Regions from separate parts of the Homo sapiens genome. Here regions 2, 3, 4, 5, 6 and 7 are each linked to region 1. Evidence: fine-mapped expression QTL. A gene starts in region 1. Each other region holds a variant in brackets. All regions are shown on one strand. Distances are from middle to middle.

Region 1 (4,152 bases):
GGACGCCAGCCGGAAGTGGTGGCTCACGCCTGTAATCCCAGCACTTTGGGAGGCCGAGGCAGGTGGATCACCTGAGGTCAGCAGTTCAAGACCAGACTGGACAACATTGTGAAACCCTGTCTCTACTAAAAAAAAAAAAAAAATACAAAAAATTAGACAGGCGTGGTGGCGGGCGCCTGTAATCCCAGCTACTCGGGACGCTGAGGCAGGAAAATTGCTTGAACCCGGGAGGCGAAGGTTGCAGTGAGCCGAGGTCGCGCCATTACACTCCACCCCGGACAAGAGCGAAACTCCGTCTCCAAAAAAAAAAAAAAAAAAAAAAGGATGCTAATACACGGTAAAAGCCAGTGGCAAAAAATAAAAAATCGAACCCTGTCTCATTCCGTAGGCTTTACTGTTTCCCTTGCTTTTAATAGTTTATCTCACAGGAGGCATTTTAAAAATATTCTCAGAAACATCAACAACAGATTTTTCTCAAGCGACCATTTTCAGGAAGGCTTCAGAAATTACTAAAAGGCCAAAGCTACCGTTAGTGGCTCAGTCTTTGCCGCCAGACTCGGGCAGGTGACAGCGGTTTGGGCTCGGGCGCCGGGCACTCTGCGCCTTCCAACGCTGGCGGCCCCGCCTCCCCTTCTCCCGGGCCAGGCACGCAGGTGGAGGAAAGTAAACACCAGTCGGAAGCAAGGTGGAAGCAGTGAGTCTCGCGACTCTCAATAAAACAAGTGGAAAAAAAAAAAAAAACAATCCTCGCACAAAGCATCTCCGTGCTCCCACAAGCAGAGGCGTGGCTGCTTGTTTCCCTTTTTAAAGGTTGTATTTTTAGTTCTTATGAAAAATGTTTTTATTGCTTACTTCTAAGTAAACATGTATCTCCATTACGATAACGTAGAGAAAAGCTCTTTTAAGAAGTAAAAAGAGAAAACTGAAGTCACGTTCACATTCCCACTACTCACTGAAACGTTTGGGGGAACTTACTCAAGTGTTTGCTAATGAGTTTTAAAGACGAGTTAGGCCCTTAACGCGTAATTGGGGTCGTGCTGTGCATATGATTTGGGATCTTGCAGCTTGTTTAACTCGGCCCAATGACGTTACCATTTCCCCCAAATGGTTACTAATTCCTTGAAAACGTTTACAAAAGTTCTAGAATAAACACTAAAGTTATTATTTTTAAACTCCATTATCCAAGTTGGACTGGTCTGGCGATCGACTGTTAAAAAAAAAAAATTACAACTTTCTTAAGCTTCCTGATCTCTGTGCCAATTCCCGGAGAAAGTGTGGGGAGTGCACAAAAAAAGCCCCTCCCCCGTCTCACGAGGGCTGCAAACGCAGGCGCTGCGCCCCGCTAGCTCCCCGCCTGCACCCCCGGCGGCCACCCGAGACTGAGCAGAGCGCCAGGCTGAGCGCGGTTGTGTGCTGGGGCGACCGGCCTCTGTGGTCCGCGTAGCACAAACGTGACCCACTGCGCACACCTGCAGGGCGCGCCCACTCCGGCACTCAACCGGCTGGGCGCGCCAGATCCCCAGTGCCGCAGCCAAGGGCCACGTTTCCAGCCCAAGGCCAGCAGGACCGGGTGGCAAAGGGAAGTCAAACTGTGGGTGCGTCCGGACGGCGGCGGGCGGCCGGACCCTCACCTGGTAGCGAGTCGCCAACTCCATTCTTCCTAACCGGGCTCCAGTCTCCTCCCAGCACGCGGCCACGGGAGCCCGGACTCACCACGGCCCGGCGCACCAAGAACGCCCCGCGCCCGAGCAGCTAGCGCGCTCCGCCCGGAGCACAGGCGGGCCCCGGGAGGGGCGCACTTGACGCCCTGGACAGGGGGAGCGCGTTGCGCTGCCCCCTCGGTGCCGCCTCACTGGGCCTCGTGGCTCCGATCACGTTCCAACTTCGCGGCCACTGACCTTGTCTTCGCAGGCGGCGCGAGAGGGGGCTGCAGTTGGGCGCGGCAAGAGCAATTACCAGTGTTAGGGCGCCGGGCTCCCCCCTGCAGCAGAGGGAGGGAGTGGAGCCGTCCGGCGGGGTTTAGCGCGGGAGAAATGAGGGGGCTGTCCCGGCGCAGCCTCCAGCTGGCACGCGCGCTGGATACTTGGCAGGGTTTATTCCAGGTCATGCCCTGGGGCGCGAGCTTCTGCTGCAACCCCTGTCTCTGATCCAGGCAAATATTGTAGGGCGGCTTTGGGGCTTGTTTTGTTTTGTTGTTGTAACGGGGCAGGGTTCTCTTTGGGAAGATTCTGTCTCCCAAAACATTTGCTACAGGGTTCACTTTGCAGAACAGGCAACCCAGGTTTCTTTACCAAGGCCCAGGTGGACAGATGCAAACCCGCCTGAAACTTTAGACGGCCATTACACAGTAGGCCTCCACACCCACCAGACAAAGAGTTTGTAGAGGTCAGGAATGCTGACTAATTTAACAGAATTGACCCCGGCATCTACTAAGCATCAGGCACTGGGCTAGTCCTAGGAACAGAAGGGTGAACAAAAACAGGCCCCTGCTCTGTTGGAGTTTACAGCCTGAGAGCCAGTTACCAACCTAATTGCATTATTCTAAATAAATACAATAATGATGCAAATAAGTGTAATAACGATGTAAATTTTATAAATTAGATTTATAATTAATATTAATTTGATACCACTATCAATGACAAATGTAATGATGATGCAAATAAATGTAAATTTGGAGCGATGATGCCATGAGAAAAAAGGCAAGTGGTATTAATGGTGGTGTGAAATAGGAAGACAATCTGATAGAGGTCAGGGAATACTTCTTAGAGTTCAGATATGAAGAGTGAGGAATTAAGTTTGTGGAAATTGTGGGAGAGTTGAAGTAGAGAGTGGGGAGAATGGTAAATGAAGTTGTCCTGAAATCACAGCAGGTTTGCTGGACAGTGTTGCACACCTATTTAGAACCGTGGTCATAGGTTTACAGTAGAGCATCCTGTACGCATAGGACCTTCTGCAGCCCCTCTCAGCTGCTTAGGATCTGACGTTCATCTTTTCTTTATTGAACGAGTGAATGAAATTTGCCAAACATTTACTCAAGCTTGAAGAGAAAACATGGAAAAGGTTTCCTTCCTTCCTTTGGTTAGTTCAGCAAACAACATGTGTTATGTGCTTTCATGTTCCAGCCCTCAGTGTTCTCACTTCCTGGTGGTAGTAAAACCAATACAACATTGTGTGACTTAAAATGTTTTGTTTTTATTGGATAATGTTATTTATTCATTATGGCCACTTCATTTTTATTATGCTTTAGAGTTTTCCTTCACATGCAGTATCTCCTTGAATCCTCTCAATATCCTTCCAGATCCTTATTGTCCACATTTTTAAAATAAGGAAACAGAATCTAAGAAAATACATTAAGAGATCCCTGCCACCCTGCCACTAAGTGACAGCAGCAGACTGCCAAACTGAAAACCATTCCTTATGCCTCCAGATCCAACATTCTTTCCATTTTTCTGTATTTTTTCCCTTTGGCTGCCAGGAAGCTTAGAGTGAAAATTAATTCAATCAGAGCTCTTCTTCCTCTTTTTTTTTTTTTAGATAGTTGCTTCCTCATGAACTGCTGATCTTGTTTGCACTTCTTTTCATTGTAGGTTAAATCAAATCAATTTTGGAAAAGGGAGCACAAATTTGAAGCAGGTCAGATTTTGCAAAACACTTGAAGCAGCCTAGACTAGCTACTTCTGTATCAGGAAACCTGTAAGCTGTTGAACCTTTCTGTTTAGAAATTTGCCATAACTAACCCTAAGTCTTCAGATGACAACCCCTAAATTTTCTTCCTGTGCTTAGCAAAGCCTGTACACGTTTGATGGTATTTAGTAATTGATTATATAGTGGTGTGTTTTGTTTTGTTTTGTTTTGTTTTGTTTTGGTCAGGCTTTGGGAAAATCTCTAAGGAACCAGAGGATTTAAACATGGCACTGCAGTAATACTTTCTAATAATTATTACTGATAGGGTTCACGGGATGTGAGCACTGGGTTTCATCATGGCACTGCAAGAATGAGTGTCCCTTCCAGATGCAACAGTATACATATTGCAACACAGAAAAAGAAGACATAATGTTTGCAACTTCTTTTAAGAAGTCTGTCTAGAAATCCATGCTTGATTGCTTTTTAAATGTTTCCATGAGAGAGTAAAAACTTGGTCCCCAGTACCTT
Region 2 (4,000 bases), 170 kb before region 1:
CCCAAGAGTAAATAATGCCGCTGGTAAGGGGTACATCTGCAGTTTGACACCAGAGCCCATAGTCTTAAATCCTTCTTTTGACTATTGCATGAATGTTTGACTATTGGGAAAGCAGTAAAAGAAGAAAGGAAACAGAATTTTTAAAGGAGCAATTTTGTGGGCAGGAAGAAGTACAGGAGGGTATGCAGTATCTTACCAGATTTTTCAGAACTGGAAATCTAGCCCAGGTCCTAGGATTCAAACCCTTTGTCCCTGGCTCCCTCCGGAATCTTCTTCTCAGAGCAAAACAGCACTATGAAGAGCTTAGGACAAGTGTTAAAATGCAACACTGCCCATTTTATGCATTGTAAGTTTTCTTTCTTTAATAAGCCACCATGCAACCACAAATATCTTATTAATATATTCTTCTACCAGCCCTAAAAGGAGCAAAAAGATCAAATAGATTGTGTAGCACATCAGTTTGACATATTTAAAATTTAACACAGAAATAATTTCTGAGAAAAATGTTCAAGACTTACTGTAGGTATATGGCATTTAATGTGACAAAATTGTCCCAAGTTACACTTCAAAAAGAGAGAAAATAGATTCTTTCACCTGCCCCTTTCTCTTTTGCCCTTCCTCCCTCCCTCCCTTGAATACAGTGCTCTTGAAAGCCCAAATTTAGTATTACAGACCAATGTAGTCATCTTTGCTGGTCTTGGGAAGGTATAAAATCCTAAACTGATTTAGTGCTGACCTCTGGGTATTGGTTTATATTCAACTCTGCTGTTTGTCATTTTCAAGAGGAATATACTGGGCACTTGCTTGAAGTGCCAGGTGGCTGGAGTACTTGGTGTGGCAGAGACTACTCCTGCCCGAGAACTGTCACACCAAATAGCAGAGATCTGTTTATGTTTTTGTGTTGACAGTGAGCCAACTGAGAGAGTAGAAATTAAACACGTTTTCTTAATGTGAGGGAAAGCAGTTTCATCTTTGCATTTGATTATGCGTTGGAGACAGCATCGTTTTCCAGAGCATCTTAGTGGGGAAACCTTGAGTTTATAACCATTCGATACTGGCACTCTGCTTATTTTTATTTTTGCCATCATCATGATTAGCTGCTAAATGACTATAAGTGGTTATCAACTGGTTTTTATTAAGAGGCCAAATCTAGCAGGAATGATATTCTCCCCTCACGTCTCTCAAAGTGAAAAATACAGCATTGCGTAGCCCTCGCTGCGGCAGCACCAGCAGCAACTCCTCTCAATTCTCCCCCAACGCCCCCCACAAAAAAAAATAATAAAATAAAATAACTGGAGATAAATGAATGGCAGAATAAATAATTTATGCTAATGAAATTACTGCAATTAGTAGTTCTACAATGACCCTTTTAAAAGCCACAGCTGTTAATGTCAGGAAGTGCTGTCACTACTGACCTTATCATAAGAGAAAGTGACAAATTGAGAATGCAGGGAAGACCAGTCATCAAAGAGGTCTGTTCTGGAACGATTAGAGTTTTCTGAAAAACAGTGTGAATTACAACCAGCTGCTCCCTGGCTCAGCGAGTCTCCCATGCTGTGCCATTTTGTTAAGCCTGATAACAATAGTTATTTTGCCCCATTGAGACAAGTTGTCTCAGGCCACTTTCAGCTCTACCGGAAACCACTTCTTCCATCCCCGATTTACAAATGAAACTGTTGTTAAAGAGAGCTTTCAGCGCCTCCAAGGAGCCTCCTCATAAGGATCATGGTTGGGCAGAGGCCAGAGTGTTTTTTTTTTTTCTTCTTTCTTTCTTTTTTTTTTTCCCTTCCTGTAAGGAGGTTACACTTGGCTGAGGAATTATTTATCT[A/G]TATTGTAGAAAGGTATGTGTGTACCTTTAGTTCCCATTAAAACAAGACAGGACAGGAGTAAATTCCTGCACATGTCTGTATTGAAGTCAAGCTCTTGTAAAAATAAAGTCTCCAAAGGATTATGATTTATATGAAGTTTATATAAACTTCTTCATAAATTTTATTTTTCTGAGTTCACTGTTTGGAAATATATTTGTATCTGGGGTCCACTAGAAACCAAGAATATTTGGAATTTATATCACGTTATTTTTAACTTTTGTTTTAGTAATACATTATTTCAGTTACTAGTGAGATGGATTTTTAATACGCAGCACAATGCAATATGTGGGTATTCCAAACCCACTCGGGAATTTGTCGTGATGTTGGAAAGTTGATTGTTTAAAGACATTGTTCAGGAGCAGTTGTTTTTCACCAAGAATTGGCTGGTCTCTCTTCACACCTCTGCTTGTAATATTAATGGTGCAGGTTTGAAATGTTTGACTGCATCACCAGCCACGTGTGTGCAATTTTCCCAAAGACGTCTGAGCATTATTGACAACACTTTGGTAAATTATGTGTGACTTTCCTAAGAGTTGGTGTAGCTCATTTAATTCATATTAATTGATTTGTAGGCTTCCCTTGATTAACTGAACCTGGTTCATCTTGTACAGAATGCAATAAATAATCATTAAAATGAGGGAGATGTGACTCTGCAAATTAAAAAGTTAACTACTTCAGAAGTCATAGAGGACAAAATGGAAAGAATGTATAGTGGGGGGTCTTCCAGTAACTCATTGAAGGAGAGTTGCTCTTTTTGTGGGTTTTCTTTCCCAAATATGAATAGAAATGATCATGATATTTTTCTCCCAGAAGCAGTGACATTTATACCCTACTATCCAGTTTGTTTTTACATGAGTTCTCATAAAACTGTGAGTTTCTAAGTTTTGGCTTTTTTTTTTTTTTCAGTGACTTTGCAGGGTTATTGCTTCTCTTTGTCTAAAGCTTAGTTTGAAAGCAATGGCAGAAATATTTCTCAGGATATTGTGTCTGTTTCTCCACCTTCTCTTTCACACACTCGGTAGATAAAAATCAAGTTGTGAAGATCTGTATATGCTGGCTTTTGTATTTGGTATGTGGAGCACATAAAAACCCTTTGTCCTACTTGGCAAGAAGAAGGTTACTCAAGCTGAATGCTTTATTGTAATCTCCCAAATCCTGTGGATAGCGCTTAAAGATTAAATAAGTTTTCGTAGGTTATACTATCATTTTTTTTTCTGACTTTTAGAAAAAAAATGATCATTTACTTGATTTTTTTTAAGTTGTATTTTTAATTTGAGAGGATTTCACATGAACTGTAATGTTTGTGTTTTCAGCCAGTGCACAAAGACTCTATTAGCCTTTTCATGGCACATGTTCACACCACTGTAAATGAAATGAGTACCAGATATTACCAGAATGAGAGAAGACACAACTATACCACCCCAAAGAGTTTTCTAGAACAAATATCACTGTTTAAGAACCTGTTGAAGAAGAAGCAAAATGAGGTATCCGAGAAAAAAGAACGCCTGGTGAACGGCATCCAAAAGCTAAAAACCACAGCCTCTCAGGTATGACCAGGATGTGTTATTACTGAGTAATATTTATGCTGTTTAACAGAAAAATATATTTCCTTTTGAAGCACTACTAAATCCATTTCTATAAGATGCCAGCTGGTGAAATTTACAGTTTCATGACACCAAGAATACACTGCTACTGCTTTCAAAAGCCTACAATGGGATTGGCCGACTCACAGCTGGATTAGGGTGAAACGTTCTCTTCCTGGCCTGACTCAGTGTAAGGTAGTGTGGGATATTGAAGGGAGCAGACACAGCGGATTGCCTCTCTTGTCTCTGACTTCTTCAGTGCACGGTACTTGTCGTCAAGGTTCTTATCATCCTAGGATGGACCAGTATCTTTTTTGGTCTCAGATTCTCAACCTCCAGTGAGGGCATCATTTTCTGGCTAATGACTGTGGCGAGATCCCAAGGTAGAGCTGTTCCTCCCTTAGTGACTTGTCTGCTCCTCTTACACATCTGTGTCCTCAGTCCTGAGGCCCCTGCTCCCTCGAAGGGCGATGCCTCTAACTTGCAGGAGTAAATCAGGAGAGAATCATCACAGGATGTTAATCATGTGTGGGTCTGTACACATATTAT
Region 3 (4,152 bases), 42 kb before region 1:
CCTCACTCCCGCATTCCAGAACCACGATTCAGAGTTTATTAATTACATAAATGAAACTTGTAACTCACATTCTGTCCTCTTGCCCTGAACTCTCTCTCTGCACTAGGATTATGGCTGCCTCTTCATAATCTGTGTCTTTCCCCTCAGCCTGCCTTGTTTGTTTGTTCCTTCCATTTCTGTCATACACCTCAAGGAGAAATTTTGGTTAAAGGCAACGTGGAGTTGAGTTGAAAAATCTAGCAAAGGAGAAGATTCCCTAATAGGGAAAATATCAGGCCTGAGCTTTTCCAATGCAAACAGATACAGAATGGATGGTACTCGTGGTTTATATAAGTAAGTAAGTCACACGGGAAGGCAACAACTACTTGCCCAGAGGGTCTCCTGTGCTCAGCCTCAAGATTTCAAGCTGTTTTGTAAGCTGCTAGAGACTTACTTACCTCTCCAGATATTCCTTAACATTGTCATAACCATAAAACTTGGCCAGATGAATGAGGATTCCTGTGGCACAGCGGCCGTCACGCTTCCGACAGTAGCTGCAATTGCAGATCCCACGACAGGGGGGACACACCCAATCCTAACAGAGAGATGACAGCAGACACTTCGCTCATTATCTACAGGGTCTGGCAAGAACTGGGATTCGGATCCAGAATGGCTCAGCTGGCCTCTCCTCCAACCTTTAATCACATGGCATCTTTCAGTCTACGTCCCAGGGGGCTCCTCACAAGGCAGGAAGGCTGAATCACCCCACGTCACATGCAAACACTGAAAAATGACACCTTTTAGGGCTCCTTGCTTAAAAATTATGGAGATTTTCACAAGCATTTGGCCAAGCACAGGGCCCTGTGCGAGCATGCAGGTCACAGGCCCAGGATGTCAGCCCTGGTTTAGGAGCACAAGGTTTCCAAAATATCAAGGTATGAATTTCAGCCCTTTCAATGTGTGCTTATTGTTGAATGACTAACCTGAGCAGCAGTTTGTTTGTCTGTCAGTTGAGGACCATATATTTACCCCATGACTGCTGCCTAAGAGGTCACACTCGGGAGCAGGACTGCCCCAGGCTCAAGGTCGTGCCTACTCACCATGATACTATGTCTCATTTTACCGAGGGAGCTGAGAGAGGTTATACACCTATTTCATGGGATTAAACAAATTTATGGTAACAGAGTGAGCGACAGCTTGCACAGTGCCAGGCACACAGAGAGCACTCTATACTGCAATCTCCACCTCCCTCTCAGCCTGGCCCAGGAAAAACAAAACAAATCAGAGGGAAATCACTTTGCTGAAGGACAGGTACAGGGATTACTTGCATAAAACTAGAGGACTGTAAGCAAGTTTTGCTCTGACAATGGAAAATCTAACAACATTAATTCTTCTATTCACTGGTCAGCTTGCTCTCCTTCCAGAAGGAATCCCTATTTTTCATTTTCCCTGGAGCCTTAAGATACAAATGGAAGGGAAAAACCAGAGTTCTGGAGCTCCCTAGTTCCCAGTGAGAACCCAGGAGGCCCATCTTTATAGCTTGCTTCCTTCACCAATACAATTTACAACAAATGCAAACACTGTTCCTACCGGGTCCAGCAATGCCGATCTGACATCCTCCCCATAGCGGTTCCGCAGGCATGGTCCACAGAACTGTCCTCGCACACCACAGCAACCCTGGTTCCGACACACTGTCTTGGTGTCGATGGTCTTTTGTCGACACTGATGGCACGTGTTACCCTACAGGGGGAAGGCAGTGAGCAGGTGAACACAGGGATATGCTGATGCCCAATGAGGCCAGATGCCACCATGTGCATTTCCAAGTATATGAAGAAATACCCCCGTCTCCTCGAATCAAGCAGGACTGTTTTCCTAAGAACCACAGCATTGTCTCTAGACCGGGGTCCCCAGCCCCCAGGCTAGAACCAGTCTGTGGCCTGTTTGGAACCGGGCTGCACAGCAGGAAGTGAGCAGCGGACGGGCGAGCATTACCGCCTGAGCTCTGCCTCCTGTCAGATCAGCAGCAGCATTAGATTCTCATAGGAGCACAAACCCTCTATTGTGAATTGCACATGTGAGGGATCTAGGTTGTGCACCCTTTATAAGAATCTAATGCCCGATGATCTGAGGTGGAACAGTTTCATCCTGAAACCATCCCCTTCCTGCCCCCCAAATCCATGGAAAAACTGTCTTTCACAAAACCAGTCCCTGGTGCCAAAAAGGTTGGGGACCACTGCTCTAGAATGTAACCATCACAGGTCTGTGGCCAGAGAAACATATTAGGTCAGATGAGGCTGAGCAGAGACCCAGAAGGAATGAAATGATCAGGCTGTCAGGAAGAGAGACCAGAGAAAAGCTTGAGGCAGGGGTGGCAGAGCCCCTGAAAGGTGACAGGTGACTGAGGGGCAATGAGCCTTGGGTGGCATCACCTCGGCCCCAGCCTAGCTCTGCAGACCTGGATACCTTCAA[T/C]GTGAGATCTATTTTTTTTTAAATATTGGCAACTAAATTTAAAACTTGACAGTGTCCCGTTACATATCCAGAAAAACACAAAAAAAATGCAGAACGCAAAGCCTCCCTCTAAATCACCATTTAGAAGAAATTTAACCCATTTCCTACCAAAGATATTCTGCCAAACTTTAATTTCTATGGTTATATTACCCCCCAAATATACTTTTTTCAATATTTAGAACATAAAACTATATGCTTAAACCATTAACAGTTACATATAAAAATCCCTTTTAAACTATACCGTTCCCTTCCCCCAGATTCTACGCATCCCTAAGAGAGACCGCCGTCCAGATGGGAATTACTGCACTAGGCTGCCTCCCCTTTCCCAGGTACAGCTGACTTTTGACCCTCCAATTCAGAGCCTGGCTCTGAGCCCTTGGTGAGATGGCATAAGCCCTGATAGAGTTTAAAAACAAGTGAGATTTCAATACCAATGCCTTCGACTCCCAATAAGAATGACAATTAATGTATACTTTACCAGAACTTTATCATAGATTTTATCTCGAACAGTTATGGCAACATTTTCTAAGTCCTCTTCGGTGATATCCTCCACTGGCCGAAAAGAAGATATACGGTGACGTCGTCTGTACTCCCGGCATTTCCCCTGCACAATGAACACAAGCAGAACATGGAGATGTGTTGAGCAGTTATAAAAAAATTATAAATATTTTAAACTCTCAAAGATCTAGCACCATTAATGTTAACCCCGTCCCTCTTCTATTTCCCTGCAGCCATTTCATTTAGTTATTTACTGAGCTCCTGCCACCTGCCAAGCTTCCTTCTCAGCAAGGCGATACAATCATAAAGGAGGAACTCAAGGTTTTTGGTTCTTTGCTGTAAACTCTGTGGAGAGGTGAACCACACTGAACAGCCAAACCCACAAATGGGTCCACAGTTGCTCCCTCCAAACTGAAAGCGCTTGAAACGCCTCATGCCTAAAACAGAAAGGCAAGGAGGAATCACTGCACTTTTCTTTATTGCCTGCAGCAGAGATTAAAGCAGGGTCCTAACAAATGAGCTGCTTCTCAGCTCGGCTTGGATAAAAGACTCTCTCTGTGACCTCCAGCTTAGACCAGGGCTGCTTCTCAAAGTGTGATCTCAGGAGCAATGGCATCACCTGGGAAGCAGAGAGAAATGCAAGTTCTCAGCTGCCGCAGACCCACGGGGTCAGAACCAGCCCTGGGGTGACAGTGACGTGCGTTCACGTTTGGAGGGATGGTAGCTCAGACAAAAACTAATTCATGTATTAGTCAGAAAATACCCCAATTGTCTTCCTTCTTCGGAAGCTGTAAAACTCTTCCGCAAATTTAGCGGCTGAGACAGTGAAGTTCTCTAGAGCAAACTTCTCAGGAGGCCGCGCACTCCGGGTTGGGTTCATACGCCGCGTGATCTGTCCCTCCGAGAAGGCCCGCCTCACTGTCTTCTTCCTCTGAAATCAAGAGCACAGACAGAGACAACTGGGGACTCTCTCGAATAAAAGCCGTCTGGTGGCTGATCACCATATATCAGTATTGGTATAATTATAAGGAGTTCTACTTACAGAAGCTGAGGTTGGGGTTCGTACTGGGAAGAAATCTGGCATCGAGTTCAATTCCGCCAATAACTGGGCAAGCTGAAGTTCAGAACAAAAGAAAGAATCTTACAAAAATAGGGCTCCAGGTTTAG
Region 4 (4,000 bases), 230 kb before region 1:
CACACACACACACACCCCAGCACCCAAGCATGAAACGCCATATCAGAGCCACCTATTGGAAACTCGTTAGCAGCTATCAGATTGGAGTTACATTCAGTCCATTGAAAAAGGAGACACTTTGAAATAGCCCCTACGGAATTTTCATCTTTTTATTCGTAACTGATTTCTTATTACTAAATAATTGATGCCAAGATTAATCAAGAAAAATCACAAGCTGTTTTCATAAATAAGGCCTACACTATGGGAATAGTTTCAGCCCTTCAGGAAATGACATAGTGCACTTCCTCATAAATGCTCGGTAATGGTCTACTTATATTCCATTATGTTTGGCTTCTGAGTGCTATTAGGAGTTTCTTTTACAGTCTTTTCATTAAGGTAAAATGGCCATTAAAACAAGTTTTTAAAGGGCCATTTTAAAATATTTGCAGTTTGAAAAATAGAACGAACTCACTAAACGTGTCCTTGAAGTGTTGCACCAAGCTGTGTCAAAGGAGGAAGCTTTTGACTTGGTGAAATTCTGCTTTTCAAGCCTAGTGTTCAATAAAAGCTTTTCTGTGTTCCTTTTCAGGTATGTGGCCAGTTGGATAGACAGAAGGCGGCATCAATCAGAAAAGGCCAATTTGACTATTCTTTTTGATAAATATGTCCCTGCATGCTTGGATAAACTGAGAACAAGCTTTAAAACCATCACTTCAATTCCTGAGAGTAGCCTGGTGCAGGTTTGTCTTCGGTTACGCCATTTAACGTTCTAGTTCTGATGCGGTAGTGTTTGTTGATCAAGACAACAGAAGATCTTGCCTTGCCCAAGAAAGTGAGAAGATTTCTGGAATTGTTAGATTGCTGCAACCCTCTTGCCCCCGCCCCCGTCCCCCATGTTCCCTGGATCTTTTTGCAAACCTCTATCACATTCTGTTAGTGTTTAAGTTTGTGCTCTCCTTCTTTTCACAATCTTGTGAAAGAAGGTTAGAACCATGTTTTACTGATTTTTTTTTAGTATCCCCAGATAGCTCTTAGCACATAGTAGGTGCCAGATATGTGTTTGTTGAATCACTGTGTTCCTTTCCAGTGTCTTTGCACAGAATTAGAAGAACAAAGTTGCAATAGCTTTATTTATTTTTCTGGTTCCTAAGTAACTTGCCCAGAGAAGGTGCTCAGTATGTTTTCTAATAAAACAAATTTGTGCAATTAAAGATGCCAGCCAGTGAGTAAGAGAAAGCCTCTGAATTCTACCACCTAGGTGCCACCACTCACAGGCCTCCCCCTCCCAAAAATATTCATGGAGGAGTGTCAGTCTGGATGAAGAGTTCATAATATCCCAGGGATATATTTTTTCTCATCTTCATCTTGAGACAGCTGGTAAGAGTGAGGGTTACACATAATATGTTGTCATGGAAGCCAATGAAAATAATTCACAACACACAGAAATGAAGGCTGTGATCTTCATCTCAGCATGAAGAAAAACTATCCCCAGCCCTTAGAAGTAGAAGACTTCATGAAAAGGTTTACAATTAGAAACCCCCACACCCTTTTTTTGCTATAAGAGCAAAATTGCTTTCTAAGTACTTTGTTACCATTAAGTGAGTGTGTTACCAAATTTGTTTGACGCAAAATTAGAAATAGTCACAAGCATAATAAGAAGAGAAAGTTCAGGTTTTTGGATAATTCGCACACCAATTAAATAAACGATAGTCTTCAACAGTAATTATCTGAGGTATAATTTATTTCCGAAAGCAGGTCTGAATTTGTTCATTATGAATTAATTATGTAGTTAGCCTAATTAGACTCCCTCTGGTGTAATACTTGCAAAAAAGCATTATCGTGTTCTTTCTCAAGTT[C/G]ACTTGTGTATTTGTGTGATTCTCTGTGGTGTGAACTTTTCCATTCAAGAGTAGTGTGAAAATAGGTCAGTAGGAATTAATATGATTTCTGCTCTACTTCTTTCTTTTGTTGTATTCAGAAAGGGCATTTAATTTTTAGCTCCTTTTAAGCTGTTGTTTTATAGAGTAATTTCTCTTCTGTGGTTACTAATAAGTATGGAAATTTGAGACAAAAATGGGTATAAGAAGATAGTGACCTGAAATGGCTATCTTGAGAAATTAATGCACTCTGTTTTCCGATATATGACGCCTCTTTAAGTTTGGTAAGGTTTATTAACTCTTTCAGATTACTCATTAAAGTACGTTAAATGCTGACACAGAACTCAAAATATATTTCAAGTACTGTGGGAGAAAATAGAAGAAACACATGGCCGTATTCGTGTGTTCATCTCAGCAGATAGCGTCACGTTGAGACCCTTCAGTCTTTTTTGTTTTGATTTCAACAGTGCCTTAGAACAACATGGCTTCTACTAAAAAATAACAAAGCCTCAGAGTTTTACACTGTTTTTCTTAATAGCAAATTGGTGAGTTTTTTTCTATTAAAAGATTATTTCAAATTGGCAAATGTGGCACAACATGAAATAATAGAAGCCAAGAAAGAAGATTAAAGAATATAATAGGTGCTCAATAATTTAAATGAAAAGTATTTCCCCATCTTCTGTGGCAAGGAAGGAAAGGCACACACACAGTGCTGACCTGATCTGTGATCGCTTGCGTTGCTGTGTGTATAATAGAGATGAAAATCTATCGTTGCCTGCAAAAACTGGGGGAAGAGTCTCTTGAGTTTTTAGGATCTGTAACAGTGCTAATTAATGACGACTTTCTGTGCTTTAGAGAGCTAGCCCCAGAACCTGTTCATTACTGGTTATTATTTCACATGGTGAAGGCCTCTGCAGCAGCCGCATTCCCCTCATTGCTGGCGCAACTGCCCTAAGCATGGGCTAGGTACATGAGGACCGCCCAGCACGTTGCCATTTCACCTGGAGAGTATGAAGAACACGTTCCTGAGTTCCTGAACAGCATTTCTTTCAAGGTTAAATTTAGTTCGGTGTCCAAAAAACTGCCACAGGCTTAAGCTGCCAGTCCAACATTCTAAATTTATGACAACGGGTGGGAAACTGGCTGCCAAAGCGCTTACCGAAAGTGGTTTATCTGAATGTCCAACAAGAAGGAAATAGTAAAATAAATGCCTCTTCATCCAATGGAATCCTCTGCATCCATTCCAGTGGTGGTGTAGAGTAACACTTATTGATAAGGAAAGATGTCTTCAGTTTTTAATCAAGGAAGTGGATTATAGAATACTATTTAGAAAATGATTTCCTATTTATAAAAAAGTGAATATGTACCCTTTTTTTTTTTTGCTTATGTGTGATTTTGGTTTGTATACTGATTATTAACTGGATTGTTTAAAATTTTGTTTTTAAAAAATAGTTTATTACCTAGATCATTTTGGTTGAAAGTGACAAGTTTTCTACTGTTAACTTAGACACCCAAGGTGGTAATTTTTGTCTCTCCCAATGTAGCAAATCACAGCTGGGAAAAACTATGTACTCTCTTAAGGATAAAGTGGAGTTGTAAAAATATTCTTTGAACTTCACTATTTTAAAAAAATGTTGCCTTATTTGACTATTTCTTTTTCTTTAGACTCTATGTGTTCTTTTGGAGTGCTTGCTGACTCCTGAAAATGTACCTTCTGACAGCCCAAAAGAAGTTTATGAAGTCTATTTTGTATTTGCTTGTATCTGGGCTTTTGGAGGCACCCTGCTACAAGATCAGGTATGTTTAGAAATAGTTTACAGGACCAGTTTCCAGTTTTGTGTGGGACAGGGTCATGGGGAGGTTAAAACATGTGATCTGTACCTTTTTGTTATGTTATAGATCTATACTGCTTGCCCTGTTCTCTCCTAAGTCTATGCATTCTCTGGGTAGTCCCATCCCTGATGGTTCTAACCCCAGCTGACAATGCCAAATCCATACCCTCCAGCCTGGCTGTGTCTTCTGAACTGAAAGTTCTGTGTTTCTGGCTGCTCTGGGGCCTCGCCTTCAGCATGCTGTTCTACAAGAAGCCCCACTCAGTGTGCCTGAGACAGATCTCCTCCTCTGCCCCATACTCCAACTTGCCCCTG
Region 5 (4,152 bases), 25 kb before region 1:
ATGGTGACACCCTGAATTCAAATCCAACACGGAGGCTTCTTCCTCTGCTCCCTCATCTCTCCCTCATCTCACATTAGCATCGCCGTTCCACCACAAGGAAAACCCTCGATTCCCAAAATTTTTAATATACTTATCCATGTGGTGCTCTATCTACAATAAACACAAAATAGCGCCAAACTGACGCCACCAATATACTACCAACAACAAACAGTGCAGTTCAAGATTTCTTTGCAGTTCTTTCTAGCCCTGGAACATAGTCTCACTATACACAGGATCTTTTCCTTCAGCTAACCAGATGATCATTGTACATGGTTATGCAAAAATGTTTCACATGTACTTCCCATTTCATCATGCAGTATATTAAAAAGATGTCCTTAACAGTTGAGACTTAATAATTTTTACTGTTTCATCAGAACATTCTTATGTGAAACTGACATTTTCTTTTTAAATTGAGTGCATGGAGGTGAATGCAATGACTACTAATACAGTTTGTTGCTACCACCTGGATTCATGCTAAAGATCAGCAGTTTTCTCCACTTTGGCTTTTGCACAATCAGTGCAAATATCAACACAGCAAAAAGGGCAAATAATCTTAGTATTATTATGACATTACATTCGCCCTCATGGACCCGTGAAAGGGTCTCAGGTCCTCCATCTCACACTTTGACCACTGCACTAGCATATACAGAGTTGTGTATTCAAAAGCTACTTAGCTTCGTGGAATTCTCTGTGTGGGTGTGTTGACTTAATTTTACATTTAGTCAGGTTCCATTTAGGAAACTGGTAATCCTTAATCTATTTACTTTCATCCTTATTTTAATGCTTCTTGATTAAAAATAATTAGAAAATAATGGTTCAATCAAAGGAAGTGTAACATAAATACAGAAATGGGATACCCCAAGTTCAGTGATGCTGAAGGGTTAATACAAACACTTTCCCACCATCTAATAAAATCACTGCAAGGGACAAACAAGAACAACACTTACAGAAGTAGAGTTCCACTAACAATTTTTTTACCAGCCACACGTAGTGCAGCACTAGCAAAGCCTAACTCTGACATCATTCTTGGGGAAAATATTGAAACTTTTCTCAAGGAGGTATGTTAAACAATGTTTGCCACCTTATCTTTTCAAAGACACCTTTTGTTGTTGTTTAGCACTCAGAACTAATACGCAAGGAAAACACCCAGACTAGAGAAACACAGACAATACTTATGAAAGTGTGCCTATGTTGTAGCTACATAATAGCCACTGAGTTCAGTCCCTGCAGAGGCACTAAGAGGGACAGTGTGTCAATTTCAGTCTTTTTCTTTTGGCCTTCTCACCATTCTACAAAATTCAAACAGCCCTGCTGGCCCAGAAGCTTCTTTTAACATAAATGGTTTAAAGGAGGAGGAGCACCCCATTTATGGATTTAATGGAAATACATACAAGGAATGGAGAGGGTTGGTGATAGGAATAAACTGCTTCCAGCAGCAACTGCATTAGTCCCTGTGCTATTGTGTTCAGCCCCACCACTGCTGCGAGCCTGTGTCTGACTAGCTAATTCCTCCTTCTGCATCTTTGACTTCTGCATCTGCTCCAGAGGTACCATTAGGGGGCTATAATTACTGATTAGGAACAAAAGGAAAGAGCACACTTTCAAAAAAACGGTGTGCATTCCTGGGGTACGCAGGGCTCTGATCCTTCAAAAGGTATTAAAAGAGTTTCAGATAGTCACAAGCTTCAAGATTTGC[C/CA]AAAAAAAAAAAAAAAACTGTAAAATATTCAAGTGTCCTCAATGCAACGAACTGATTTGTCTAACAGATGCAACAAAGGCAGCAAGATTTATATGAGAAGGACCTGATAGAAAGGATACACAGGGACCTCTTCTAATGAATGACCAGTTCCACAACACAGTGATACATTAGGCCCAAGGATCTGTCACTTTCCTGTTCCATTCAGCAGCGATCCACTGGGTAGCTGCATAGTCTAGACAAAAATGCAAGACCTTTTTTTTTTTTTTTCAAAGTTTGTGTTCCATTCTATTACAATAAAGCCAATCATAAGACTCACCAAAAAGAAAACTACAACAAGTAACTGAAAACAACAAAAATACAAAATTTCTCAATCAATGGATATTTACATTAGTTGAACTTCTGAATTAGGATAACTACTATCTAGTGAACCAAAAAAAAAAGGGAAAATTCTCATCTGAAAGTGAAAAGACCGTTTCATTATTTATAATACTTGTTAAAAATCGACAACTTCATGCTATTCCTTTCATGTACAGTTTCTGTTTGTCTACTCTGTCTTTATTGGAATTAACAGTGTGAATATCATCAAAAGTCATATGGGGGACCAGGATTCAATTCTATGAGAACACAGGTACTAGAATGGAATCCACAGGCACCTAACATAGAGCCCAGCCTAAAGCAGATGATCAACAAACCCTTGCTGAAAGCATTTACATGCATCTGACTTTGTAGCCATTTTCTTAAGAAAGGTGTATTTTACTAGGAAAATACTAAGTCAAAAAGGTACACTCTGTGACATTCCTACATGAGGGGAATTAAAAATTTTCACCCAGAATCCTAAGACATCTTTCTACAAAGCAGTCATATTCACAGCTCCCCTTTCAGAAAGGACTGCAGGTTTCCCTTATAAGCCATACAGATTACCTGAGAGCTTTTCTCTGAAATACATTATGCCAACTCAACAGGCTTTGGGGCCAAGCAGGTGGGTAACAGGGCAGTAGGTCAGCTGTAGGACAATATGGGATGGTGCTGACTGGTAGGCTGAACACATATATCAGGGAAGGCAGGCCACTCCTCCACTCCAGCTGATCACTGCCCTGCAGGAACAGGGGTCTGGTGTGTCTGACCTCCAACATTCCCAGAGAACCTGAGAATCTGAGTGTTGGTAAGAAACTTCCCATCTACAGACTGGATCTCAAACTTGTTCAGGGAACATGCACGGTGGAACTCATAGGGCTCTGTGGGACACCAAGGAAACTGCAAATGCCAGAATTCCAAATATTACCAACAGTATTAATATATCTACTAGTGCCTAGTAGTAATAGTAGAGGGCATCAAAGTGTTAAGAAGATTAAGAAAAACTTTATATCCTTTCCCTTATTCATGGCATCATGATTCACAAGAGCCAAAAGGTGGAAGCAATCCAAGTATCCATCGATGGATAAATGGATAAACAAAATGTGAGACATACATATAATTGAATATTATTCAACACTAAAAAGGAAGGAAATTATGACACATGCCACAACATGGATGAACTTTGAAGACGTTATGCTAAATGATAATAACCCAGTCTCGATAAAACCAAGAACGGTATGATTCTACTTATAACAGGTACCTAGAGTGGTTGAATCCTCGGAGACAGCAGAATGGCACTTGCCAGATGCTGAGGGGAGGGAGAAACGTGGAGTTACTGTTTAATGGATACAGATTCAGCTTTCCAAGATGGAAAGAGTTTTGGAATTTAAATATGCTTAACACTACTGAACCATACATTTTAAAATGGCTAAGATAGGAGATTTTATGTTATATGTATCTTAGCACAATTTAAAAAGAATTCAACGAAAAAAGACAAGAAAGACAATTTAAGCCAGGCATGGTGGTTCATACCTGTAATCCCAGCACTCTGGGAGGCCGAGGCAGGAAGATCACTTGACCCCAGGGGTTTGAGACCAGCCTAGGCAACATGGTGAGACCCCGTCTCTACCAAAAAAGATACAAAAATCAGCTGGGTTGTGGTGGCGTGTGCCTGTAGTCCCAGCTACTCATGAAGCTAAAATGGGAGGATCGGTTGAGCCCATGAGTTAGAGGCTGCATGCAGTGAGCTATGATCATACCACTACACTACAGTCAGGGTGTCAGTGAGACCCTGTCTCTAAAAGAGAAAAAGAAAAAAAGAAAAACCGGGGTAGAGGGGAATTTTTCCTTCCTTAAGTGAATGAAATCTTCCAAACTGACAGAACAAGTCCAGACCTTAGCCTAGTTTTAATGGTACCATCACTTTAGGGGCATGTGGCTTAAGAACCCAACTCTCTCACCTAAGGGAGGTTCAGATACATCATTGTAGGTGCCAAGGCTTCAGCTTTAGTGTCTGACCAACCAGGTATCTGAGCCTGTAAGCCCATTAGTTAACTGATAGT
Region 6 (4,000 bases), 70 kb before region 1:
TGCCTCACTGCAACTTCCACCTCCCGGGTTCAAGCAATTCTCCTGCCTCAGCCTCCTGAGTAGCTGTGATTACAGCTGCATACCACCACGCCCGGCTAATTTTTGTATTTTTAGTAGAGATGGGGTTTCACCATGTTGACCAGACTGGTCTTGAACTCCTGACCTCAGGTGATCCACCTGCCTCGGCCTCCCAAAGTGCTGGGATTACAGACATGAGCCACCGCGCCTGGCCGGAACTTGCTTCTTGAAAACAAATGTGGCACACTAGTATCTCTGACCACAGAAAGAGAAGAAGCCATTGTTATTCTTGTTGATGATGGCGACAGTAATGACATGGTAAAAGTTTCAGTGTAGTGTTTTAGCCCGGTTTGATATGAGTAAATTTAAAGGCCTCTTTTTGGGTTATATCTATGACACCTTATTTATATGTTCATGTTTTTCCAAGATAAGACAAATGAATACTTACATGGTTTTTTTTTGTTTTTGGTTTTTTTGAGACAGAGTTTTGCTCTTGTCGCCCAGGCTGGAGTGCAATGACATGATCTTGGCTCACTGCAACCTCAGCCTCCCAGGTTGAAGCGATTCTCCTGCCTCAGCCTCCCAGGTAGCTGGGATTACAGGCGCCCACCACCAAGCCCAGCTAACTTTTGTATTTTTAGTAGAGACAGGGTTTCATCATGTTAGCCAGGCTGGTCTCGAACTCCTGACCTCAGGTGATCTGTTCACCTTGGCCTCCCAATTCCACCTTGGCTGGAATTACAGGTGTGAGCCACTGCACCTGGCCAAATACATATATAAATTAATACATAAATACATACGTATATATACATATATATACACATATATATGATATATATATGATACCTTTATTACCATTACTCTTTTTACCCAAACTATCCTATCTATCAACATCATTGTCAAGTCTTTCAGTTTCCTTTCTTGCTATTGCTCTGAGATCTTCCTTCCTTCCTCTAATTTTTTGGAAATCCTTGGTAAATCGCATTCTTGTTAGGACAGTAGAATGAACCCTAAAGAGGAAATACATATGATTTGGTGATAAATATTCAGCCCCCTCTTAGAAATATCATTCTCTACGAAGCATGTTAACATCCTTAGCTTCTTTTCTCGTAACTTTTGGGTCAATACGTAAACCAACATTATGAAGGAATTATGATAATTGACTACCTAAGAATACAGTGTTGAAGAATGCAGTTAATTACTTCATTAAATAATTGAGTAATTTTTATCCTATATATACACACAAGATTGTGTAAATAGTAGGACTCAAAAAATCTTTTTGAAACTATTAAGTATCTGCAATATGCCTTATTTAATCCACTATGACAGACATATATGTTTTTTAATCATCTCTTAATTTATAATTTCTGGCTATTTATGACATTTTCAAGCTATTTCCCAAAGTACATACAAAGAGGAATTTGATTTATTTAAATAGGACTTATCTGCCCCCTAAAATAAGTATCTTTATTCATGAAAGTGAACATTTCATGAACAAATATGCTTCAGCCCAATTATCCTTCAGCTTTTTTGTTCGTTTGTTTGTTTTGTTTTTTTGGTAAAGATCACTTCGAGAATCTCATAAAACTGTGGACACTCTCCCCAGGGAAATACACGTTCGAAAATATACTGCACATTGGGCCAGACACAGTGCCTCATGCCTACAATCCCAGCACTTTAGGAGGCTGAGAGGAGGATCACTTGAGCCCAGGAGTTCGAGGCTGCAGTGAGCTATGATCACA[C/T]CACTGTGCTTCAGCCTGGGCAACAGAGCGAGACACTGTCTCAAAAAATAATAATAAGTGTTAAAAATATGTTGCATATAATGATAAAGATTCACAGATTCCCCCAAAGCCTATGCATGAATTCCCTAGTTAAGAACACCTGTTCTGGTCTTTTCATGAACCTGTCAATTCTTTTGACTGCTATCTGGAAAGCCACTTTTATTAATTGAAGGTTACTTTTATTAGAAGGGCTTTTAGGAACTTCAAGGAAGAATATTTCTTTTTTTTTTTTTTTTTTTTTTTTGAGACAGAGTCTCACTCTATCGCCCAGGCTGGAGTGCAGTGGTACGATCTCGGCTCACTGCAAGCTCCGCCTCCCAGGTTCACGCCATTCTCCTGCCTCAGCCTCCCGAGTAGCTGGGACTACAGGTGCCTGCCACCATGCACGGCTAATTTTTTGAGTTTTTTAGTAGAGACGGGGTTTCACCGTGTTAGCCAGGATGGTCTTGATCTCCTGACCTTGTGATCTGCCCGCCTCGGCATCCGAAGTGCTGGGATTACAGGCGTGAGCCACCGCACCTGGCCCAAGGAAGAATATTGCTTATTTAGTGGAGAGGATCCTCTGAAATATTAAGACTGAACTTGATGTTAAGTAGCAAAAGCAAAGATAACCAAAGTGATTCACTAAATAATCTTCTCATCAAACCTATCTTAGCCAGAGCCAACCAACAAAATAAAAAATGTGCAGAAAATCTAAAATGTTAGAGTCTTTTATGAATGCTGACCTGTCATTATGTTAGAAAACAAAATGCAGTTTTTAATCAGATTATATAATTCAAGGGATTTAGCCTGTGCTCCCTGGCTCTCTGTGAATATGTTCCCATTGCCCTTTTATCAGTTAGAATGTTGGGTTGGCTACTTTTGAAAAAAGTTCTTATAAAATAACAGTGGCTTATACAAGGTCAAAAAGTAGTCCTGCCACATGAGAGTTTTACAGATAGTCCATTCAGAAGTCATGTGTTACCACAAATTGTCATCAATCTGGCTCTTTATAGTTCACCATTTCTAGAATGGGCTTTTCACGGTCCCAGGTGGCTGCAGGAGTTGCAGCCCCCATATCCACATTCCTGACAGGAGGATGGAAGAAGAAACAAACAAGATGACAAAAGGAAAAGGACGGTGTTTGCTTTGTTGTGCAAGTGCTTCCTACAAGTTAACAAACAGAAATTCTCCTTTCATCTCATTGGTCAAACTTAGTCACATTGCATTACCTAGCTGCAAGAGAGGCTGGGAAAAGTGAATTTATCTTAAGCAACCATATGCCCAGCTAAAAATTAGCAAGAAGACATTTTAAGGAAGGCAATCAGCAGTCTCCATCACAGATGTCCTTTCCCACATCTCCTTGTATTATTTGGGGTGTTCTGTGTTGCTGCTGTGGTCCAATCTTGTTAAAGCCTGTGTATGGATAGATTGATGAATGCTATCTCTCTTGTTACCCATATGGGTTAGGTAAATGAGGACCAGTTGTTCCTGTTGCCTGGGTGTCCCTCACAGTGGAGTAAAATACCCAAGAGGTTTAGACAAGTCAACTGTACTGCTAGGGTATTTTTCAAATCTAATTAAACCTTTTTTTTCTTTTTTTTGCTCTGTCACCCAGGCTGAAGTGCAGCAGCACACTTATAGCTCACTGCAGCCTTGAACTCCTGGGCTCAAGTAATCCTCCTGCCTCAGCCTCCTGAGTAGCTGGGACTACAGGTGTATGCCACTATGCCTGGCTAATTTTTAAATCCATATTTTTAATCTTTCCCCTCAATTTAGAATTTACCTCCAAACTTTGGCATGTGTATTCAAAATGAACAGTTTGTTTAATACTAGTGCTTTATTATCCTGAGCATTCCAGAATATTTATGTAAATTTAATCAAGTGGCTGGGACATAAAGAACCATTTCTTGTAGGATACCATCTACCTACGCCTTTCAGCTAAAGAGCCTCTTGAGGCTAGGCACGGTGGCTCACGCCTGTAATCCCAGCACTTTGGGAGGCCGAGGCGGGCGGATCACGAGGTCAGGAGATTGAGATCATCCTGGCTAAAAAGGTGAAACCCCATCTCTACTAAAAATACAAAAAATTAGCCAGGCGTGGTGGTGGGCGCCTGTAGTCCCAGCTACTCGGGAGGCTGAGGCAGGAGAATGGCATGAACCCGGGAGGCAGAGGTTGCAATGAGCAGAGATCGCGCTACTGCACTCCAGCCTGGGCAACAC
Region 7 (4,000 bases), 100 kb before region 1:
TAAATCACTATATTAAAAGTTGATGCCGACCGGGTATGGTGACTCACGCCTGTAATCCCAGCACTTTGGTAGGCTGAGGGGGGCAAATCACGAGGTCAGGAGTTTGAGACCAGCCTGGACAACATGGTGAAACCCTGTCTCTACTAAAAAATACAAAAAATTAGCTGGGTGTGGTGGTGGGCGCCTGTAGTCCCAGCTACTCAGGAGGCTGAGGCAGGAAAATGGCGTGAACCCAGGAGGCAGAGCTTTCAGGGATCCGAGATCACACCACTGCACTCCAACCTGGGCGACAGAGTGAGACTCCGTTTCAAAAAAAAAAAAAGGGGACGTATGTAATGCACAGGTATATACTGGCTTGGGCAGAAGAGGGTTGCTAGCTGAATTGCTTATTCTCCTCTTGGAAAACAATTAAATAGTAGGAGGTACTGACAAGGTAAAAACAAATCCAAACTGAATAAAGTGAATAAATTCACCATTCAACTAATAGGGTTTTCAAAAGTGGCTTATCTGGCAGAATTTTTTCAAGTTTAGACACTTAATCAACAACTCTGAAGGTTTCTGTTGTCAGTGTAAGATCACTCTGCAGGGAAAACAACATTTGAGAATTAGATGAAGACAATAGGTCATAAGTCTGATCAGTCCTTTGGGATTTTAAATTCATATTCAGGCAACAAAAGCTTTAGTAATGTAAGAAAATTTTAATTTTTAAATAGTCTTTACACATTAAAACCAGTTGTCTCATTAAAAATGTTTCCAGTCAAATAACACAGCCAGTGGTTCAGAGGCACTTTCCTTACCATAGACACAAGAGACCTAATCTCTGAGCAAGACACAATTATAAAACATCATCCAAGAACCACAGAAAACATTGCCACTTTATGGCATTCTGGATATCACTCCTCAAATTAAAAATTGTTGCTAATATTGTGACATTTCGATAAAAAGGAGCCCTGTCTGAATGCGATAGAACATCTTTTCTTTAGAATTTTCCCAGTTGTTCAAAATTGACAAATTCAGTGAAATAACATCTCACCTGGAAGTCAATGAGATAGGCAATAAATATTTTTTTCTCATGGCTATTTAAAATAATTTCAATTAAAATAATTGGGCTCTGGCTAATTTTCTATCATGACATCTATACAATTTAAATATTTTATACACTTAATAATGAAGAATCCAAAATTTTCATATGTAAGGTAAAATAGAAGACTGAGCCGAGACTGTTTGCTGCAGCCATGCCTCTAGGCCTCATAAGAAGTTTCACTCTAAGCAGCTTAGGCCGCTTTGAGAAGTTCCAGTATTCGTGGTTTTGGCTTCTCTGTCTCTTGCATGAATTAGAAAGCTCCCCCTTTACTAGATCCTCATAGCAGGTTCCTAGCAGGAAAGAGACCATGAAGCTTGTATGAAAACATCTCATGTACCCCATAAATACATATGATTACTACGTACCCTTAAATTAAAAAAATAACATGAATTAAGCTGGGAGTTTTGAATAGAATTAGCCTAGTGACTATTTACAGAAATAATTTTCAGAGGAAAGGGTTAAGTAGAGATGTTGAGGCAGACAAGGATTTGCAGTTACAGGAAGCCAATGCAGAAAGTATTGGAAAGTAATTTTTTAAATATATGTGTTGGGCTGGGTGAGGTGCCTCACACCTGTAATCCTAGCACTTTGGAAGGCCAAGGCGGGTGGATCACCTGAGGTCAGTAGTTGGAGACCAGCCTGACCAGCATGGCAAAACCCCATCTCTACTAAAAATATACAAAAATTAGCTGGGCGTGGTGGCATGCACCTGTAATCTCAGCTACTCAGGAGGCTGAGGCACAAGAATGACTTGAACCCAGGAGGTGGAGGTTGCAGTGAGCCAAAATTGTACCATTGCATTTCAGCCTGGGTGAAGGAGTGAGACACTGTCACACACACACAAAAAAGAATATATGTGTTTTTAATATTTCATCTTTATAAAAATAAAATATTTTAATACGTTATTTAAGATACATAAGTATATTAAATACATACTTAAGATGCATTATACATATATATACAGATATACATAAACACATACATACACATCTTATCCTTAAAGAACTGCAACATTTAATGTATGTTTAATCACAGAAAGTACAGCTGGCCCTGAAATAACATACTTTCATGCTAATGTTGATGAGGGAAAAAAACATCACTTCCTGCTTGCTGGGACCACTGTCTGTGTGGAGTTTGCACACGTTCCCCATGTCTGCCTGGGTTTTCTCTTTTCCTCCTGTTTCCTCCCATATCCCACAGCTGTGCATGTTAGGTGAGCTGGAATGTCTATATGGTCCCAGTGTGAGTGAGTGAGTGTGGGGGTGTGTGAGTG[T/G]CCCTGCCATGGGATGACATCCTGTCCAGGGCTGGTTCCCACCTGGTGCCCTGAGTTTCCAGGGTAGTGTGCAGCCACCCGGGAGCCTGAACTGGAATCAGTGGGTTAGAAAAGGAATGAATGAGTGAATACAAACTATTGTCAAATAAAAATTTGTAAATTAGACGATAATCATACAAATGCACGACACTGAACATTGCACTACAAAAGCCCTTCTCAAGCCTGCCAGATCTGTCATTGCTTTTGAACTGTGTGGTGGTAGGAGGTGCTGCTTAAGATTTTCTGCTTTGTACACATTTATTTCTCAATTTAACCTGCCCCCTCTATGCCCACCATTTCTCACTAATGCACCAAAAATTGAGTAAATAATTATCTTGTTTTTATTAACCTTTTAAAATGTATATGTAGCTCACATTTATTTCAGTGTTTAATATTAGAGGTGTTTGAGGCCTTTATTTAGAAGTTTGATGATGTTTTTGTGACCAGGAACATGCCATAGGAACTTCACTCTTGTTTATATCAATTAGTCAGTGGTAAAACTGGTTTCTTCATATGTTGTTTTGCTTAAAGTCACAGTTTGCAAGTTTATCGATTACATCGAGGACTTACTGTATAATAATAAAAGCTAATATTTGTTGTTATAGGTCTTTTATATGATTGTATTTAATTGTTACAGTGACACTATGGGGTGAGTACTATTATTGTCAATATTTCACATATGAGGAAACTAAATCATATAGAGATTTGCTGGGTGATTGCTGATCCTGCTGTACTTTAGGAAATTTGGGAGTAGCTGAAAAATTCTCAATCACCTGAGCTTCTGGCCAAGGTCCATTATAAGAATACAGGAATGGAATGACACCGTAGTATCAGTTATGGGTCATAGGAGTCTCCTGAAAGTCTGTGTTTTGCTCCGTTTAGGTATATCAGGATTGGAGATAAAGAATGTGAATTTAACAAGAACTTTCGCCTTATCCTTCACACAAAATTGGCAAATCCTCACTATAAGCCGGAATTACAAGCTCAGACAACTCTCCTCAATTTCACAGTCACAGAAGATGGTCTAGAAGCCCAGCTGCTGGCAGAGGTTGTCAGTATTGAAAGGCCAGATTTGGAGAAACTTAAGGTAAAAATGTTTACGTCACCACCAACACTTAGTCGGCATTTGCTTTGCACAAATCACAGTGCTAGACATAGAAGTATAAAATAGGATTCCTGCCCTCTAGAATCCTGCAACCTAATTGGGAAAAATAAGTATACATGTTAAAAGTTAAACAATTCAAAGTTGCTCTTCATAAATGCTAGATTGTTACGGTTATGCCACACGTAGGAGATAGGGTGGCTCTGGATCTTGTTTGAGGGCAAACAAAGAGGCATACGAGTCATGTAAAATAGAGGTATGTGCCCAGGTATGTTGGAATGTAATCGACTAATTTAGCCTGGGCTAAAGAATGAAAAAGAGGTATAATGAAGCAAGCTTGGAAGAATTAAGGACCTGGTAGCTAGTTGTGACTAGTATTCAAAGGGACATTCATGGCCTTAAGTATATTAAGAAACAATGCTGAAAATACTGAAATTTAGTGTTATATACAGAAAACAAAGCAACATAGCCTTAAAATGTAGAAGAAAGGCAATAATAAAGA

Which allele goes with the higher level. Alleles are on the strand shown, and positions count from the first base shown. SD is a standard deviation of normalised expression in the study named. Not every link is listed here.
For the expression in prostate of the gene that starts at base 1,750 in region 1, allele A in region 2 goes with a lower level than allele G (small effect, 0.29 SD a copy in GTEx).
For the expression in skeletal muscle of the gene that starts at base 1,750 in region 1, T is the high allele of the variant in region 3 and C is the other (small effect, 0.20 SD a copy in GTEx).
In carriers of allele C in region 4, the expression in prefrontal cortex of the gene that starts at base 1,750 in region 1 tends to be higher than with G alone (small effect, 0.37 SD a copy in CommonMind).

The links. PIP is the estimated chance that this variant, and not a neighbour inherited with it, causes the effect. A credible set is the group of variants that fine-mapping cannot tell apart.
Region 2: its variant is the best candidate, but not a certain one, in a credible set for the expression of CDCA7L in prostate (GTEx, PIP 0.75).
Region 3: its variant is the best candidate, but not a certain one, in a credible set for the expression of CDCA7L in skeletal muscle (GTEx, PIP 0.82).
Region 4: its variant is the best candidate, but not a certain one, in a credible set for the expression of CDCA7L in prefrontal cortex (CommonMind, PIP 0.55).
Region 5: its variant is the best candidate, but not a certain one, in a credible set for the expression of CDCA7L in monocytes (BLUEPRINT, PIP 0.71).
Region 6: its variant is the best candidate, but not a certain one, in a credible set for the expression of CDCA7L in whole blood (INTERVAL, PIP 0.58).
Region 7: its variant is the best candidate, but not a certain one, in a credible set for the expression of CDCA7L in whole blood (TOPMed, PIP 0.89).

What each region holds. Positions count from the first base shown.
Region 1 is chr7:21,944,150-21,948,301 of GRCh38, forward strand. CDCA7L (cell division cycle associated 7 like) reads right to left here and starts at 1,750. Exons shown (of 10, transcript NM_018719.5): 1 at 1,632-1,750. The coding sequence starts at 1,655. RefSeq lists a silencer at 1,369-1,418 and enhancers at 1,559-1,708, 1,704-2,414, 2,099-2,348.
Region 2 is chr7:21,770,585-21,774,584 of GRCh38, forward strand. It overlaps DNAH11 (dynein axonemal heavy chain 11), which reads left to right. Exons shown (of 82, transcript NM_001277115.2): 56 at 3,182-3,415. Among named protein-coding and RNA genes, the nearest start is that of CDCA7L, 170 kb to the right of the region's middle. RefSeq lists enhancers at 1,168-1,800, 1,234-1,842. The variant A/G (reference allele first, on the strand shown) is at 1,829.
Region 3 is chr7:21,902,541-21,906,692 of GRCh38, forward strand. CDCA7L (cell division cycle associated 7 like) reads right to left here. Exons shown (of 10, transcript NM_018719.5): 5 at 4,028-4,099; 6 at 3,749-3,916; 7 at 2,966-3,091; 8 at 1,570-1,719; 9 at 438-574. Among named protein-coding and RNA genes, the nearest start is that of CDCA7L, 41 kb to the right of the region's middle. The variant T/C (reference allele first, on the strand shown) is at 2,449.
Region 4 is chr7:21,717,207-21,721,206 of GRCh38, forward strand. DNAH11 (dynein axonemal heavy chain 11) reads left to right here. Exons shown (of 82, transcript NM_001277115.2): 43 at 569-719; 44 at 3,519-3,650. Among named protein-coding and RNA genes, the nearest start is that of DNAH11, 180 kb to the left of the region's middle. The variant C/G (reference allele first, on the strand shown) is at 1,836.
Region 5 is chr7:21,919,607-21,923,758 of GRCh38, forward strand. The region is part of intron 1 of CDCA7L (cell division cycle associated 7 like); the gene reads right to left. Among named protein-coding and RNA genes, the nearest start is that of CDCA7L, 24 kb to the right of the region's middle. The variant C/CA (reference allele first, on the strand shown) is at 1,736.
Region 6 is chr7:21,873,859-21,877,858 of GRCh38, forward strand. The region is part of intron 74 of DNAH11 (dynein axonemal heavy chain 11); the gene reads left to right. Among named protein-coding and RNA genes, the nearest start is that of CDCA7L, 70 kb to the right of the region's middle. The variant C/T (reference allele first, on the strand shown) is at 1,761.
Region 7 is chr7:21,839,266-21,843,265 of GRCh38, forward strand. DNAH11 (dynein axonemal heavy chain 11) reads left to right here. Exons shown (of 82, transcript NM_001277115.2): 66 at 3,279-3,483. Among named protein-coding and RNA genes, the nearest start is that of CDCA7L, 100 kb to the right of the region's middle. The variant T/G (reference allele first, on the strand shown) is at 2,358.